2 linked regions of the Homo sapiens genome follow. The protein of the gene in region 2 interacts with the protein of the main gene of each other region in a pairwise test. Each region holds a gene or a part of one and is shown on either strand. Other genes may lie near its edges.

Region 1 (3,500 bases), on a different chromosome or scaffold from region 2:
TTCCTGATCTCAAAAAATAAAATTTTAACACAAGAATTACTTGTTAATGTTGCTAAAATGAATCAAATTCCACACTCTGGGTTAGGCCCAGATTTTTCAACAAGGTCATTATCAGGATGAAATAAGCAAAAGTAAGGTGGTATCATTGATATTGTTGGTATTGCCACAACTGTTATACAGAAACAGTGACCTGGTAAAGGATGCTCTCCAACATTCGGTAGCGTCATTCAGATAAGAAAGCAAAGTAACATTTTAGATGTCTTTCTTAGTGTTTTTAATCAGAAGTCAGATCCCAAAATTAAGAAAATCCCTTTTTAAGTCCCACATTGTAAGCTGAGTCATTACGAGAAATACAGAAATAAGAGATAAGACAGATGCGGGGAAGGAGATACTTCATTCTGATTGCCTGTCAATTCATCATAAGTTAATAACCAATCAGTTGGCATGCATGGGACGGAACTAGGATGGAAGAAAATCCAGTCCAATCCAATTGGGAAGTTTTAATAGGGATAAAAATAGAAATTGTGTATTGTGTCATATGATTCCATTATGTTTATTTGTAAATCTCATCCAAATGTGTAAACTTAGTTTATTTTGTACAAGTTAACAATTTTAAACTGTCTATCCCATTGTTACCCTAGTACGTGAAACATAGCAACCACGATTTTTAAAGAGTTTACAACCTTGCCTACAATATTATGTAAATAATAGTCAGTCAATTTAGCTACAATGGTTGTATAGAAAATGAAGAAGGGGAGGAGAGGCTTACCACTAGTTCACTGCAACAACCTGTTGAGGAGTCCTTTTTTGACAACCCTAAAAATATATCTTCAGTTCCCACCTGCTGTCTGAATATAATCTCATACCTGAAAAAAAATCAATGATTATAGGGACTCAGATGAAAGAGCAATTTCCTGTCACAGAAAAGAAAACTAGTAACTTATGAGGATATGCTATTAGGTAAAATAAAAGGACTAAACAAATAAAGTGCTTGCAGGTCTTCAGGCATATAATAGAACATAAAGGAAAAGAAGTCTAGAAATGTGGTCAAAATAAACACTGAAAGGCAGGATTGTTATTATTTTCTAAAATAAAGCTTTAACTGTTTCAGAGCTAGACAAATAAAATAGATTGAGGGAACTTGTAATAAGATTCTAATAAGATTAAAAGCAGAAGAAAAAAAAGGAAAGTCTGTTCCTGAAAAACAATAGCTCAGAAAAATACTGAGTCCATAACCTAGGGATTGATAGAAACCTTCCTCTGCCAAGTTTAAACCACAGAGCAGAGGAGAAAATTCAGGTTTAGTACTGTTTCTGTCATTAACTGTGGACCTTGGTCAAGTCACAAACTCATGGGGTCTCAGTTTCTACATTTGTATGATTTATGGGAGGGAGGGGTGAGTTTGAACTGAATGATCTCCACGGCTAAAATTCTACAATAGAAACACTGGTAATGTAGTCAGCACAGCTACACCATAGTGCTTAGAATCTAGTCTTACAGAATTCTGAGTGTAATGAAAGGTTTTCCTGATATTTCACCCCACACATGACAATTCACAAATCATTCCTCCCTCCAAATTTGGGCCTCCAGGAATACAATGGTTTATAGAAGCACCCACCACAAGGTACCCCATCTCTTCAGATAGAATGAAACAAATATTTACAAATTATTATTATTATTATTATTATTATTATTATTATGCTTAATGCTACCTTAATGAAGAAATTGTAGATCTCTGGATAGTAAGACTAAAGGACTTGATTGAACTTCTGACCATTTGCCAATAGGAATGCCCAAAAATAAAAAAGGGATTTCTCTGAGTTTGAACATGGCTAACAATAAGCAGCTATTTGCTATGGGGCACTTTTCTCTTAATAGGCTATAACATCTACCAATTATTTATGAAGGTGAAGCCAGGTTAAAACAAACAGAGGATTGATCTATATGTTCATTGCTCCTAATGGATTTGCTCAAGCTCCTGCTCTTATCCTGAGCTCCAGACGCAATTTTCCAACTGTCTACTACAAAGGTTTGCCTGGATGTCCCAAAGACAACTCAAAGTGTACATATCAAAAACCAGCTAGTCATGGTGGCTCTCAACTGTAATCTAGTGCTTAGGGAGGCTGAGGCAGGAAGATTGCTTGAGTCCAGGAGTTTGAGACCAGCCTGGGCAGCACGGTTAGACGCAGTCTTCACAAAAATAAAGTGTGCACCTGTAGTCCCAGCTACTTGGGAGAGTAAGGTGGGAGAATTGCTTGAGCCCGGGAGGTTGAGGCTGCAGTGAACAATGGGCGGGGCCGGGGGGGCGGTGGTTGGCGAAGAAAAAAAACAAATTTGGTTGGGCACTGTGGCTCAGGCCTGTAATCCCAGCACTTTGGGAGGCTGAGGCAGGTGGACTGCTTGAGGCCAGGAGTTCAGGACCAGCCTGGCCAACTTGGTGAAACCTCGTCTCTACAAAAAACACAAAAAACATTAGCCAGGCCTGGTGGCATGCACCTGTAGTCTCAGCTACTTGTGAGGCTGAGGCAGGAGAATCGCTTGAACCCGGAAGGCAGAGGTTGCAGTGAGCCGAGATCACACCACTGCACTCCAGCCTGAGCGACAGAGCAAGACTCTGTCTCAGAAAAAAGGAAGAAAGAAAGAAAGAAAGAAAAAGAAAGAAAGAAAGAAAGAAAGAAAGAAAGAAAGAAAGAAAGAAAGAAAGAAAGGGAGAAAGAAAGAAAACAAAAACAAACTCACTGCTTCTTCTTAACCTATAATTCCTATCAAAGTTAATGGCATTATCATTTCCTCAGTCACCCAAGCTAATAACTTCAGCATCATCTTTGACGCTCTCCTCTCATCCATTTTATCTAACCAAATACCAACTCTTCATCCAAAACTCACTCAAATAAAGACCCTCATACTTCTCCCCAAGGCCAGTGCCTTAGCTCAGCTCCTTGTTATTCTTTTACTTGGCCACTTGTGATTCTTCTTTTTTGAACTGCCTGTTCATGTTCTTTACCTATTTTCCTCTGCATCCACTGAGAAATGTTGAAATGTATTTTCATAAGGTAGAAGATGAAGATTTTTAAAATCTTATAAAGCAATTTTCCTCATAATAACCTGAAGTTATTATTCATTTAAAGCTTTCATGGATGTTCTATCTACCTAACATCAAACATCAGGATGAAAAGGGAAAAATTACTCAAATTTGAAGTTTGCTGCATATGGATATTTGACATTTGTTAGACAATATGACAAATAAGTGACTTAATTATTACTTTTCATATGATACGTGGACACTATATAAACATAACTTCAAATTTACTCTCTTCGTTCTCTAAGAAATGTTTTAAAATCTCCTTTGATTTTTTATGAGGTTTATGGTCTTGACATTGTTTATTTGAAAGCTGGATACTTCTTTCTAGTTAATTGTCTGCAGTCTCCCACTGCTTCTGTTTTCAGAACTTATGTAGAAGGCAGAAGCATGGAGTTTTTGTTTATTTGCTTGTTTTATA
Region 2 (5,631 bases):
ATCTAACCCCTCTCCTCTCCAGATGTTTGCATTATGTTAATTCATAACAGTAAAGCCATAAAAATAAACAGAAAGAAATGTCATGCATTTTAAACAATAAAACATGTCCTAGATTACTACGTCATAGTTAATAAACAAATACATACTGTATTTCCACTCTAAAACATCTCGGGAGGGGAGGGGCAAAAAGCCTCACTGATATTTTCAAAATATATTTAACCTCTCTGATAAATTAGGAAAGGTCAACTGACAGAATACCTCAAAAAGACAGCTTTGTGGCCTTAACTAAAAAAGCATGACCAGTCAAGAGTAGCCATTTAGTTATACATTTTTTACACGTGGCAAAAGTACAGTAAAATTTTAAATATAGATGATTTGAATGTTTACTTTTCTGTGTTACTCAGGAAGTAAGGAAAGATAATGACCATTACTTAGTATAGTGTACAGTGTGTACTTAATACGTGGAACTTAGTACAGTGCACATATTATCATTAAGGTCAAAAGAAACAACTTCCAACAAATTCTCTAGTGTTTTTAAACATATACTTTCTAGGTCATGTTGTGGGTAATTTGAAACTATGTTAATGTTATGTTGTTTTAAACATAAAGATATCACACAGAACACTAAGAATCAATATGAAGGTGTGAAACCATACCAAAGCCAGGTGTAAGGGCAGGTGCTTGCTAGATAAGTTACCCCACTCTACCCTGGACCATAAACTCCATGAGAATGGAGAGTACAGTTTTTTTCTCTGCTATACCTCTAGCACCTATAACATAGAAAGCACTCAGTAAATATTGGTTAAATGAAGAATGGTGAAAATGTACAACCAAGCTATGCTATTTCCTTCAAGACATTTTTTTCTACCCTCCATCCCTGATCGAACAACCTATAGCCTCTTGCATGACTTTATCTTAATGACAAAACATAGTACATACTAATCTAGGTTCTTTAGCAGCAGTATGGGTGGTTTTAAAACTTCTTATTAATACATATTATGTATTAATATGTAAAATTCATAATACATTTTAAAGTGTATTTTTAAATGGTTAGAACAGTCTATTTTTATGTGTGTCACAATTAAAAAATTTTTAAAATAATAATTCAAACTAGTACCTTGAGAAATACGCCAAAGAAATAAGGAGGAATTTACCATTGGGATTGAAATGGAAAAGCTTTGATTAATGCCTCTTCTACTTTTTCTAGTTTATCTCTAAATTTTTAAAGTATGAGATATTTGATGAATTATAATTTACAATAGTTCCTTCTGTCATCTTATAATGGATTGAAATTAACAATAAGGGCCAGGTGAGGTGGCTCATGCTTGTAATCCCAGCATTTGGGAGGCCAATGCGGGAGGAATGCTTGAGGCAAGAGTTTAAGACCACCCTGGCCAACACAGAGAGACCTCATCTCTATTAAAAAAAAATTATTAAAAATAAATTAACAGGGAGGAATAGGCCTGGAAAACCTGTGTTGTCCTTTATTGGTAATTAAGGTAGTTTTTTCTACATTAACATTTTCCTGTCCAGGACCCACTGAACGTCCCCTACATCAAGAAACTTCCTTTTATTTGACAGAATAGGCCTGTTGAAACAATGTTGCTCTGAAGTATCAACAGTGCAAAGAGAAAATTAACAAAATTGAGCAAAGGTCTGCTATATGTAGCAATTTGTTTCTTCCACAAGAGGATGTGTTTTTGTTTTTTCTGAACCCTTTCTGAACACTGTAACATTTTCAAATGCAAAGATATGTGAGAAATCTAAGGTATGGCTTTTAAAACAGTCATATTATAAGTACTGTCTAGACATTTTAGACATGACCTTTACAGCACAGATCGCTGAGGGAAAACTATATATTTCTGAAACTTTCTCTAGCTGATTAAGGAAAAACTATGTTCCTATTAACTAGCCAATATACAATGATCAGTTCCATTAATTGTGGCATAAACAGGCAAAGGTAGCAAAAACAAGCTGTTTAAAAAATTGTATTAAGTCATGGTTCCCAACACAGCTACAGATTCCCCACCAATGAATAAACCTAAACCAGGCGCAGTGGCTCACACCAGTAATCCCAGCACTTTAGGGGCAAAGCCACGTGGATCACTGGAGCCCAGGAGTTTGCAACCAGCCTGGGCAACATGATGAAACCCCACTTCTACAAAATATACAAAAAAAATTAGCCAGGCATGGTGGTATGCATCTGTGGTCCTAGCAACTGGGGAGGCTGAGGTGGGAGGATCACTTGAGGCCGTGATTGTGCCACTGCACTCCAGCTTTCCAGCTTGGAGGACAGAGTGAGACTCTGCCTCCAAAAACAAACAAACAAACAAACAACAAAAATGCCAAAGAAATCCATCTCAGGTTGCTTTTTTTGGGGGGCGGGGGGGGGGGGGATGGATTCTTGCTCTGTTGCCCAGGCTGGAGTGCAGTGCTGCGATCGCAAAGGTTGCTTTTACCGTTGGTGGCAAAATCCCAACTAAGTAACACATGATAATGAGAAAAAGCCCCATAAAGCAAAATAATGGTGTTCAAAAATATAACACTTATTATTTAAATTATTCACAAGAAACACTGAAAGCCTGTAACATACACTAATTTGTTTTTTGCTGAGGTTGACTTTGTGGAAGCAAGTCAAGTAGCTAGTGAATGACTAGCTGACTTTCCGGCATCCGCATCTTAAGGACAACATTGTTCTCTACTCCTACATTTGGATTTTGGGTCTTTTACTAAGGGTTTAAAAGAGTCATATCATTTTCCAGTGATATTTCACTGGATTTGACAGAGAACTTCAAATGCTATGATTGTATTTACAATTTTAGAGAGTAACAAAGTTATTTTTGCAAGATGTAATTCAGCTACAGATCAAGAGTTGGCCATGCATTTCATAATCTGCCACATTCTTACAACTGAAAGTACAGTAAAACCAAGCCTATTAAGCAGGGTCTAAAAAATTTGACCACATAAAATACATCATATCAATTTTGCATTATAAATGGCCATGCTATCACAGAATTTACTATATTATAAACTTCAAAAATTATTCTAATTGCCTTCCTATAGGAGATAGCTTTAAAAAGAAAAAAATATTCCGATGATTGTTAAAATTAGAAAATGGCCAATATTAAAAAGCTATAGTGAAAGTTTTCCTTACTGCAAAAAAAAAAAAAAAAAAAGAAAAAAGGCAGTTAAACTCAAAAGTACTCACTGAAAAACACTGGAAATAGTCTACTATGCACAAATTACGGTAAAATCATACTCCTACAAATGTAGGAGTAGAGAACAATGTTGTCCCTAAGATGCGGATGCTGGAAAGTCAGCTAGTCATTCACTAGTTACTTGACTTGCTTCCACAAAGTCAACCTCAGCAAAAAACAAATTAGTATATGTTACAGGCTTTCAGTGTTTCTTGTGAATAATTTAAATAATAATTGTTATATCTTTGAATACCATTATTTTGCTTTATGAGGCAACTCATATGGCAACTCAAAAGGTACCAAAGCAAGAAGCAAAATCATTCATTCATTTTTTTTTTAAATGTACTGAACACCCACTAGGAGCCAGGCATTCTGAGCATGGAAAAATCAAAGACACATTTCCTTCTCTCAGAGTTTATGTTAATCCAGCAAGTAAGAGAACAATTAACCAATTACAAAATATAAATATTATGACTGATAGGAATATGTATTGGTGCAAATAGCTCAGATGAAGTAAAACCAGAGAAAATGTCCTGAACAAGGTAATATATAAGCTTAGATCAAAAAATTGAGGCAGGTGGATCGCCTGAAGTCAGGAGTTCGAGGCCAGCCTGACCAACATGGAGAAACCCCATCTCTACTAAAAATACAAAATTAGCCGGGTGTGGTGGTGCATGCCTGTAATCCCAGCTACTCGGGAGGCTGAGGCAGGAGAATCGTTTGAACCCGGGAGGTGGAGGTTATGGTGAGTCAAGAACGCACCATTGCACTCCAGCGTGGGCAACAAGAGCAAAACTCTGTCTCAAAAAAAAAAAAAATCAAACAAAAAAACACACTAAGGTCAGAACTAGCCATACCTGAGATGGGGCTAAGAAGTGTTCCAAAGATAAACAGTAGGGGGTAACAAAATGAATTCTGGGGAGGGTGGAGGATAGAAGAGAGAAGAAGGTGAAGGGGAAGTACAGAGAAGTTGACACAAGATGAATCTAAAAAGATGACACAGGAACCAGATCACAAAGGACTTGGTAAGATATGTTTGTTTGAGAATGTGGACTTTATCCTAAGGCAATAGGAAACAACTAAAGGTATTAATTAGAAAGATTACCATGTTCATGTTCAAATCTTCAAATCAGTAAATAATATGACTGAAGCGAAGAACAGATTGAAATGAGATGCCATGGAAGGCAGGAAAAGGAGAGAGGCTCCTGTCTTGTACTAAACATGTCCAAATACCAAATACATTGATACATAAACTTACTATGAGACTTATCAGGTGATACAATGTTCAAGGAGATGAGTACTTCCTTTCCTAGGGTTGAGTGTGTATTTTCAAAAGATTGGATGTAGCTTTACAGTGACAAAAGGGAAGCGTCTCTCTAAAGGTGTCTTGGACTAGAGATGGTGGCATGTTCTAGGATTGTGGTAACTGGTATAGAAAGAAAAATGATCAGCTGGAGAAAGATTAGAAAGGCAGAATATACAGGATTGGATTTGGTAACTGGCTGGACATGGGGTGTGGGAGGAAAAGGGAAGTCAAAGAACATTCTCAAATTTCTTGACCAGACAATTGAGGGAATAATGGTACTAACTTACTATTTCCCATCTGTTGGAAATTCTGGTGGAAATGTCCTAAAAATATTACAGTTTCTCTTCAGTTATGCATATGAAATAAACAGTGCAAAAAATATTTTAGATTTGATTTTAGCATATGATTTTTATCTCCTGGGCTATTTTCCACCTATTTTACGTAAAATAGTATTAAAATGAGTCTGCACCAACAGGAGAGAAAGGAAGTTTAGTTAGCACAGAACTGTGCTTCGTGCATGGAGAAGGCCAGCTTGAAACTAAAATTTGCCATTCAAAGAAATCCACAGGTGAAAAAGTCAAGAATTGACACTATCCCCAAAACACACAAGTGTCTCAAAATGTTTTCCTTGGGCTTACTACTGAGCCCAAGGAAACTAAGCACAGAAATAGCTCTTCCATAAAAACATGACAGGCTTTTAAAAAAGTGAACGAGAAAAAAATCCACAGAAAAAGAGTGCTACTCTTTGAAACACAACATCCAGAACAAAAGACAGTACCTTCAAAACCCACTCAGTCATTGAGAAATATTAACTGTCCTAAAATTCCGTAAAGAGATTAGTGTTGGCTGGGCGCGGTGGCTCACGCCTGTAATCCCAGCACTTTGGGAGGCCAAGGCCGGCGGATCACGAGGTAAGGAGATCGAGACCATCCTGGCTAACACGGTGAAACCCGTCTCTACTAAAAATACAAAAAACTAGCCAGGTGTGGTGGCGGGTGCCTGTGGTCCCAGCTACTTGGGAGGCTGAGGCAGGAGGATGGCCTGAACCCGGGATGCGGAGCTTGCAGTGAGCCGAGATCTCGCCACTGCACTCCAGCCTGGGCTACAGAGCCAGATTCCTTCTCAAAA

What was found. Proteins that work in one complex are often made in the same cells at the same time.
Region 1: the proteins of BTAF1 (region 2) and DNAAF6 interact in a two-hybrid assay, tested with the Homo sapiens proteins (one large-scale study listed by BioGRID).

Annotation. Positions count from the first base shown.
Region 1 is NC_000023.11:107,220,111-107,223,610, reverse strand, and holds part of DNAAF6 (dynein axonemal assembly factor 6), read right to left. Parts: intron 867-3,500; coding exon 770-866; intron 1-769. UniProt on the Homo sapiens protein: Plays a role in cytoplasmic pre-assembly of axonemal dynein.
Region 2 is NC_000010.11:91,925,526-91,931,156, reverse strand, and holds part of BTAF1 (TATA-binding protein-associated factor 172), read right to left. Parts: intron 1-5,631. UniProt on the Homo sapiens protein: Regulates transcription in association with TATA binding protein (TBP). Removes TBP from the TATA box in an ATP-dependent manner.